2 linked regions of the Homo sapiens genome follow. The protein of the gene in region 1 purifies or fractionates together with the protein of each later gene. This does not show direct contact. Each region holds a gene or a part of one and is shown in the gene's direction. Other genes may lie near its edges. The genes, in order: BICD1 and DYNC1I1.

Region 1 (3,830 bases):
ACATTTCTTGTATGAAAAGTAAATCCAAAATAATTGTGCAAACTGAGGTGTTCCAACACCTCAGTTTTGAAAAATATTTTGTGAGTGTTTTGATTTTTCAAAAGAAAGTTTTGCTCATCAGGTATGTATAGTAAATGATGTTGCATTATATCTATAAAGCCAAGCATAAAATAAATCTTTGCTTATTTCTAGGATTTTTGAACAAATATGATTTATTTAAAAATAATTGAACCAGTTTATGGGAATGTCAACAGAAAACTACTGTATTAAGTCCAAATTGGACATTAGTAATTTGCAGTATAGCAACATGGCTCAGTCTTTGCAGATCATTTTGTTTTCCAGAGTCAGTACCCACCAATGTTGCTACCTTCCTTCCCAGGCTAGGTACTGCTGTGACAATAATGCAAGTCGGCAGTGTTGCCTAAAGATGTGCAAAATCAAGAAGATGAAATTCATTAAATTTTTTTCCTAGTTATTTCTTCCCTCAACTCAATTGTTTTTTGACCTGGCCTGATGTTGTTTAGTGCTCTGCATGGACTACTGTAATTCAGCTCACAGAAGAACACACTTGAAAGAATAGTACTAAGGATTTGAAAAAAGGATGACTTCTGACATCATCAAAGTGTTCTCCTTTTCATGATTCTTTGGGCAGCTGGACAGAGCAGTATGTCCACTAGAATACTTGAGTCTGGTTTTGTGATTTCACAAGTAACACTTGCTCTTCAGTGACCTGAGTGAGGGTCACCCATGCCCAGTTATGTTCAGGGCCTGGCTGATTATATGTTTGGGATGTACGTAAATCAGCACTGTGCGCCTGTCACCCAGGCCAGAATAGTGTTTGAAGAAGAGTCATAGCTCCAAAATAACCTGAAAACTAAAAATATACATATATAAAAATACCTTGGATCTAAACTTAAGAGTTTTTTTTACACCGCATGTTCTCACTCATAGATGGGAATTGAACAATGAGAACACATGGACACAGGAAGGGGAACATCACACTCTGGGGACTGTTGTGGGGTGGGGGGAGGGGGGATGGATAGCATTAGGAGATATACCTAATGCTAAATGACGAGTTAATGGGTGCAGCACACCAGCATGGCACATGTATACATATGTAACTAATCTGCACGTTGTGCACATGTACCCTAAAACTTAAAGTATAATAATAAAAAAAAAGAGTTTTTTTTTAACTTAAAAATGGTTGAAATTTAAAATGTTGTAAAGTTGAAAAAGAGCCCCTTAGAAAGGAATGATTCAGCATTACTGATGGCATTTTAAAAAGGAAATGTATCTGTGAGACAGCTTTAGAAAAGTTTTGCAGCTTGGATACCGTAAACTATGCACTAATGAGCTTCAACCCATTTTCTTGCTTATTTTGTCAACCCTGACACCAAGGATAGTTACCAGCTGCTGAAGAAGCACTTTCTGGACATTGGGCAGCTTTTTCTTTTGGAGCCAACTCTATTCTTTTTCAGGGTTATAGTTAAATCATTCAACACAAAAATATGTACTTACACAGTTTTAGAGCTTGTCACATTGGTGACCTGATGAATGCCACTTAAATTACCTAGATTCATCTTTAAGCAGAATTGTTTTCCCTTCAGATGCTTAGAAAGATTGTTAGTTTCTTTTATATCTTTAAGTTCTAAATCACAAAATCATATGGCAAGAAAAACCCCAGATTTCTTTTCCAATCTATGAATAAACATAAAGAGACAGTTAATACTTAATTGATCTATCTGAACTATGATTTTTAACTTCTCTCATTGTTTTTATTTTTTTATTTTATTTTATTTTATTTTGAGATGGAGTCTCGCACTTTCACCCAGCCTGGAGTGCGGTGGTGTGATCTCGGCTCACTGCAAGCTCCACCTCCCGGGTTCACGCCATTCTCCTGCCTCAGCCTCCGGAGTAGCTGAGACTACACGCATTCACCACCACACCTGGCTAATTTTTCGTATTTTTAGTAGAGATGGGCTTTCACCTTGTTAGCCAGGATGGTCTCGATGTTTTTAAAGAAAAAATATTTACATTTATTATCAAATTAATCTTAAAATCTAAAATACATTAAGATATGCTTTTGGAAACTGTTTACAAACAACCTCAACAAATAAACATCATCGCTTTCAATCACATTTCTTTTTTTCTGGACCCAGTTGCTCTAACTTGCACTATCCCTTTTTTTTTTTTTTTTTTTTTTGAGATGGAGTTTCACTCTTGTTGCCCAGGCTGGAGTGCAATGGTGTGATCTCGGCTCACCGCAAATTCTGCCTCTTGGGTTCAAGTGATTCTTCTGCTTCAGCCTCCCGAGTAGCTAGGATTACAGGCATGCGCCACCACACCTGGCCAGTTTTGTATTTTTAGTAGAGATAGCGTTTCTTCATGTTGGTGAGGTTGGTCTTGAACTCCCGACCTCAGGTGATCCGCCTGCCTCAGCCTCCCAAAGTGCTGGGATTACAGGCGTGAGCCCCCACGCCCAGCCCCTTCTTTTTATTTGAAATCAAGATTTCGTCTCTGGCGAAGTTATTTCTCAGATATAACTTAGCAAGAATTTATCATCTTTTATCACATTCCCCATGTTTATGTGAACATGTATGACAGCGATGGTTTGAAGGTTTCTTCAGAACTTTCTGCTTGCAAATATTTTGCCCTATCATCCCCTTAAATATAGTTGTACTCATGGATATTGCTTTCCAAATTTGAAAATACGGTAATTAATTACTTGCATGTTGAAATATACATAAAGGACTTGCCCACACATAAGATTCCACCTGTAATTATGGCTTTGAGGAGAGGAGGGCATGAAGGGCTGCATAGTCTTAGTATTAAATAATTCATTACGCTAAAGGAGAATGCACGTAAAGTCAAGTGGCAGGAGATGCAATTGTGAAAGGGCCATGGCCACATTTTGTCTTGGGGATGTGGAGCCATTGAAAATAAATGAAACAGTCACTGTGTTTAATCTCACCAGTCTTCAAAACAATTCAGAGGGCTTACTGCTCATTTTTACTGATAAGAAGATAATAAAAATAATAAAGCATTGACTTAGGTACAAGGCTCCATTTAGAACTAGGTTCTTTACAAGCCTCACCTCTAATTCATGCAGCAATCCTTACTCAAGGTAGGTGTTTCTTGCATTATACAGAAGAGGAAACTGGGTCTTAGAGAGGTTTAGGTCTCTTCCCAGGGCCACAAAACTAAACGATGAAACTTGGAAGAAGCCCACTTTTTTTTCACTGCATCATACTACCTTGAATATGAAATATCTCTGCCAAGTCTACAAGTGCAGTATAGAAGGTTATGGTGATGGTCATAGTGGGTGGATTGAGGCTGTGTGGTGGGACAGACAGTGGCAGTAGGGATCGTGAGGAGGGGGCACGTCTAAGAGCTATTTGGGAGGTAGGGTGGAACAGGCATTGGATGTTACTATATGTGGAAAGTGAGGAAGACAGTGGAGCTGAGAATCTTCTCAGGCTGGATAGGAGGTGGTTCTATTTACAAAGGAAGGTATTATGGGGCAGAGCAGTTTTAGAGGGTGAAATTGATGCTCAAGTTACATGAGTTTCTGTTGTTTTTGACACAGGGTTTCTCTCTGTCACCCAGGCTGGAGTGCAGTGGTGCTGTTACAGCTCACCGCAACCTTAACTAACCATCCTGGCTCAAGTGATCCTCCCATCTCAGCCTCCCAAGGAGCTGGGAATACAGACCCATGCCACCATGCCTGGCTAATTTTTTTTTGAGACTGAGTCTCCCTCTGTTTCCCCAGCTGGAGTGCAGTGGCATGATCTCAGCCCACTGCAACCTTTGCCTCCTGGGTTCAAGTGATT
Region 2 (3,830 bases), on another chromosome or scaffold:
ATTTAGGTTAAAACCAGTAATATGGTGGCTCTAAGTCCGTTTGTATTAGTTTTAGCATGCTCACAGACTCCTGTGTCTATACAAAGATGGAGGATTTCGTGACATGGCTTCCATGGATGGCAGGGAGGAATAGGGGCATCCAACAGTTGGCCTGGTCTTTCTCTCTCCCAAATGGGTAAAGGGACTTTTCCTTCCTTGCTGCTAATTTTAGTGATGAAGCAGATCATTGGATGATCCAGTTATCTGTATGACATAGTCACAGCATCCTCTCCTTTATCCCAGTTGCTGATGTGCACCCTATGTGTGGATATCACAAACTTTGAACACATCACAGGATCAGAATCAGTCTGTGTTGCTTAGACTGTTAGCTTGCACTTTCAATTTAATGGACTCCTTGGCTGAAATAGTTTATTTGCACAAGAAAGACTAAACTCTCAAGCAACTATAATGATATGATACCTCAGAATGATTTTTTAAAAATTATTTCAGATGCACAAAATAGGCTATTTGATGTAAATAGCCAGAAATACTCAGGGATATTAGTTATAATTGATTATTCTTTTCTGTCATTAAACTTAACTCAGCAGTATATCTTTTAAGATTAGGAATCTTTAATTCTCAATTTTAAAAAATCATATTATAAAATAAAGACTCCCATTTGCTATTTTAAAGACGTATTTAAATATTGTTCTTTTCAGGCTTATAGCCTATTCACCCAATGGCTGCCCTGCATGAAATCTAGTCCCTGTTGAAATCTGGTTTTTATGACCTGAGTGACAACTTTCTGGTTTTAGTCCATGGAGGACACATACTCCTGCTTTGACAAATTTGCTTAGTACATCTGATATTAATACATGTGTATTCTCACAAACAATTGATTTTGAAAATGTTTGTAAATACAAGGGTATTGTGTGTTTTATTAAAGCTTGGAGCTGACAAGTGTAACCATTATTATCTTTAGTTTCTGCACCATTAGTTTCAAAATTCTCACCTGTCATCTTTGCCTGACTTAAGAAGCAGCAGCACATGCTGATGAAATCCAGCCGGCTTGAAACCAGAGATCCACAGAAGCATGAATGTCAGGGGCAGTAAAGCATGGTTTCTGGCACAGCCGGGGTCTTTTGTAACGCTGTGTGAAAAGCAAACACATGATTTAGCCAAATGATTTTTCCGTGCTATCTTTGGCATGGCAAGGAGTTGACAGATGGAAATGTAACCACACCGTGTTTTGGTAGGAGAGCATGGAGCTGGTGTACAATAAGTCCAAGCCTGTCGCTGTTACCGGAATGGCTTTCCCAACGGGAGACGTCAATAACTTCGTGGTTGGCAGTGAGGAAGGTACAGTCTACACGGCTTGTCGTCATGGAAGGTGATTTTTCTGTTTCTTTACTGATGACATGTTCTTCATTTCCGAAAGTCTGTTATCACATTCTGGATTTTAACCACCTTGCATTATGAGAAAGCATCTCTGGAAAAATGGAAAGCACGACTTCAACTCTTCATTATCTTAAAGAGCTGCATCTGCTCTGGTCATTAGCTGTTCATAAGACTGTGGTGGTTCACACTGCCTTGAGGGAAAAAAGCTCGAGCTTCTGAGCCTATCATAACAGACCACTTGCACCTTCCCAGCATCTCCGCATACCTTCAGGGTCTAGCCATGTGCCCATCAGAGATAACAATCCCCAAATATTTCTTATCCCTCCATGCCTCAATGAGTTTGCATACTCAACTTCTTTTACCAGTTCTAGCATTTCTCCCTTTTTGGCCTGGTTAATTCCTCCTCATCATTCAAGAGCCAGCACAGAGATCATTCCATGTGAAACATTTTCTGACTCTTGGGCAAAGAAAACCACTCCCACCTTTAAGTCCCATAGAATTTTCAATTCTCTTATTCATTCACTCTTCCAAGGAATATTTACTAAGAACCTACCATGTGCCAGGCATCATCAAAAGGATACATTAAAGAACAAGACAGACCTAGAGTTCATATTCTAGTTGAGGGTAAAATACTAATAAGCAAATAAATATATAGTTTAGGATGGTAAGTGCAATGGAGAAAATTAAAGTAGAATAAGTGGGATAGGACTATAGGCTGTCAAGTTGACAATTTCATATATTTTCCTTATGCTTCTATAATAGCATTAATCGTATTTTAGTTTATTCATTCATCTGCCATTTTTCTCTTACTACATTATTTCCATTTCATCTTTGATTTCCTGCACAGTACCTAGGACATAGTAAGTGAGGAGCTAAAAATATATATTGGGGATAAAGAAATGATATATAATGTAATCCATCCAATCTAAAGAAGTGCCTTAAAAGCTTTCCTCCCAGTCAGATGGGTCAGAACAGAGTGAGTCACACAAACCACCATGCAGTTCCCAGGTGATAAGAACTCTACCTTAACTGAGAGATTCACAATGCCCCTGGAAAAGAGTTGTCAGTATAAAGTGGAATCCAATAGTTTGGACTAGATTGTAAAATTGCATGCAAAACTTAACAGGTGGCCTCATGTCTTTTGAAAGGGTCACTATGTTCACACTGGTGCTTAATTTGTCTTTTACTTTAGTAGTTCTTATTCCATTGATTTTTTTTCATCTCTTGCACTCATCCGAGGCTATTAAGATTTAATGAAGAACCACAAATTGTTCCAAGTTCATATCCCTGTGTTTTTGTGATTTGTAGAAATGACAAGCATCCATGGCTCAGCTATGTGACTTTTTCCATTCAAACTATACAAGCTGTTATGTTCCTGCTGTTCTGCACGTAGAAACAAGCAGTATTTGTCCCCTCACATGATTCAAAGATGACTTAGGAAGATATGCCTCACAGTCCATTCCCAATGATCCTCCTTCATAAACCCTGGCTAAAACCACACATTAAAGCTTTATCAAAGCATAAAAATATTTGATAAAGTTATTCATTCATAAATATATTTGTTGTATGCCTACTTTGAGCAAAGTGCATTGTTAGGTTCTGCAAGGCCTGCAGACGTCATGTAAACCTGGTTTCTCTCTTCAAAATAACTGATGACGGTGAGAAAGATAAATACACAAATATCTGGAACATGAGTAGAATGTCTTAAGTGGCATGAGAGGCATAGAGAGTATAGTAGGCCAGACCTGGAGTCACAGCTTTATCTATATGCGTATTAGAATCAACATGGCATAGGTTCAGTTAACTTAACCCATGGTTTTACCTAGGTCCTTGATTATCTACGAAGGCTATAGAATACATTCATTGATAATTTCCAGATTTTTTTCATTGCTATAAAGTGAATAACATTTTACATGATGAACATTCTTGTTCTGTGGCTACTGTACTTTCTAAGCACTATCAGAATATGCACTTTGGTTCAAAAGAAGGGTCCCTATGGCACACACCACAAATCTTTTTACAACAAGCTGAATTTTGCTTTACATTGGTCCATCCATCTGAAATATAAAATACAGACCTTAGTAACATTGTAACGTAGCAGGCATTGGCTTTGTAGTCATTCTAAATGGGTCATATAGGTCTATGGGGGAGAAGCAGGGGATTGCTATTTTTCACCTAACATAGAGAAGGTGCAAATCCACTTCCATAAATTAAACAAGGTCCTCATTTTGCACCCTATAAATCCTTTCAGGATGCTGTTAAGAGCAAGTGGAGTCTCACCAGGGGCCACTTCAAAGATCAGTTCCTCGGGTTCATTAGAACAAATTTAAATGATCATGTGTGGAACTGCTCTTAGCAGTTTCACTGGGCATAATTTTTGAGTGCCTGTTACATGGAACACGCACTGCCACACTTTGCTCATGATTCCAAATTTTGCTAAGCACATTGACATT

Evidence for each region.
Region 2: the proteins of BICD1 (region 1) and DYNC1I1 purify together in Homo sapiens (co-immunoprecipitation; one study listed by IntAct). This does not show direct contact.

What each region holds. Positions count from the first base shown.
Region 1 is NC_000012.12:32,109,821-32,113,650, forward strand, and holds part of BICD1 (protein bicaudal D homolog 1), read left to right. Parts: intron 1-3,830. UniProt on the Homo sapiens protein: Regulates coat complex coatomer protein I (COPI)-independent Golgi-endoplasmic reticulum transport by recruiting the dynein-dynactin motor complex.
Region 2 is NC_000007.14:96,034,384-96,038,213, forward strand, and holds part of DYNC1I1 (cytoplasmic dynein 1 intermediate chain 1), read left to right. Parts: intron 1-1,235; coding exon 1,236-1,369; intron 1,370-3,830. UniProt on the Homo sapiens protein: Acts as one of several non-catalytic accessory components of the cytoplasmic dynein 1 complex that are thought to be involved in linking dynein to cargos and to adapter proteins that regulate dynein function.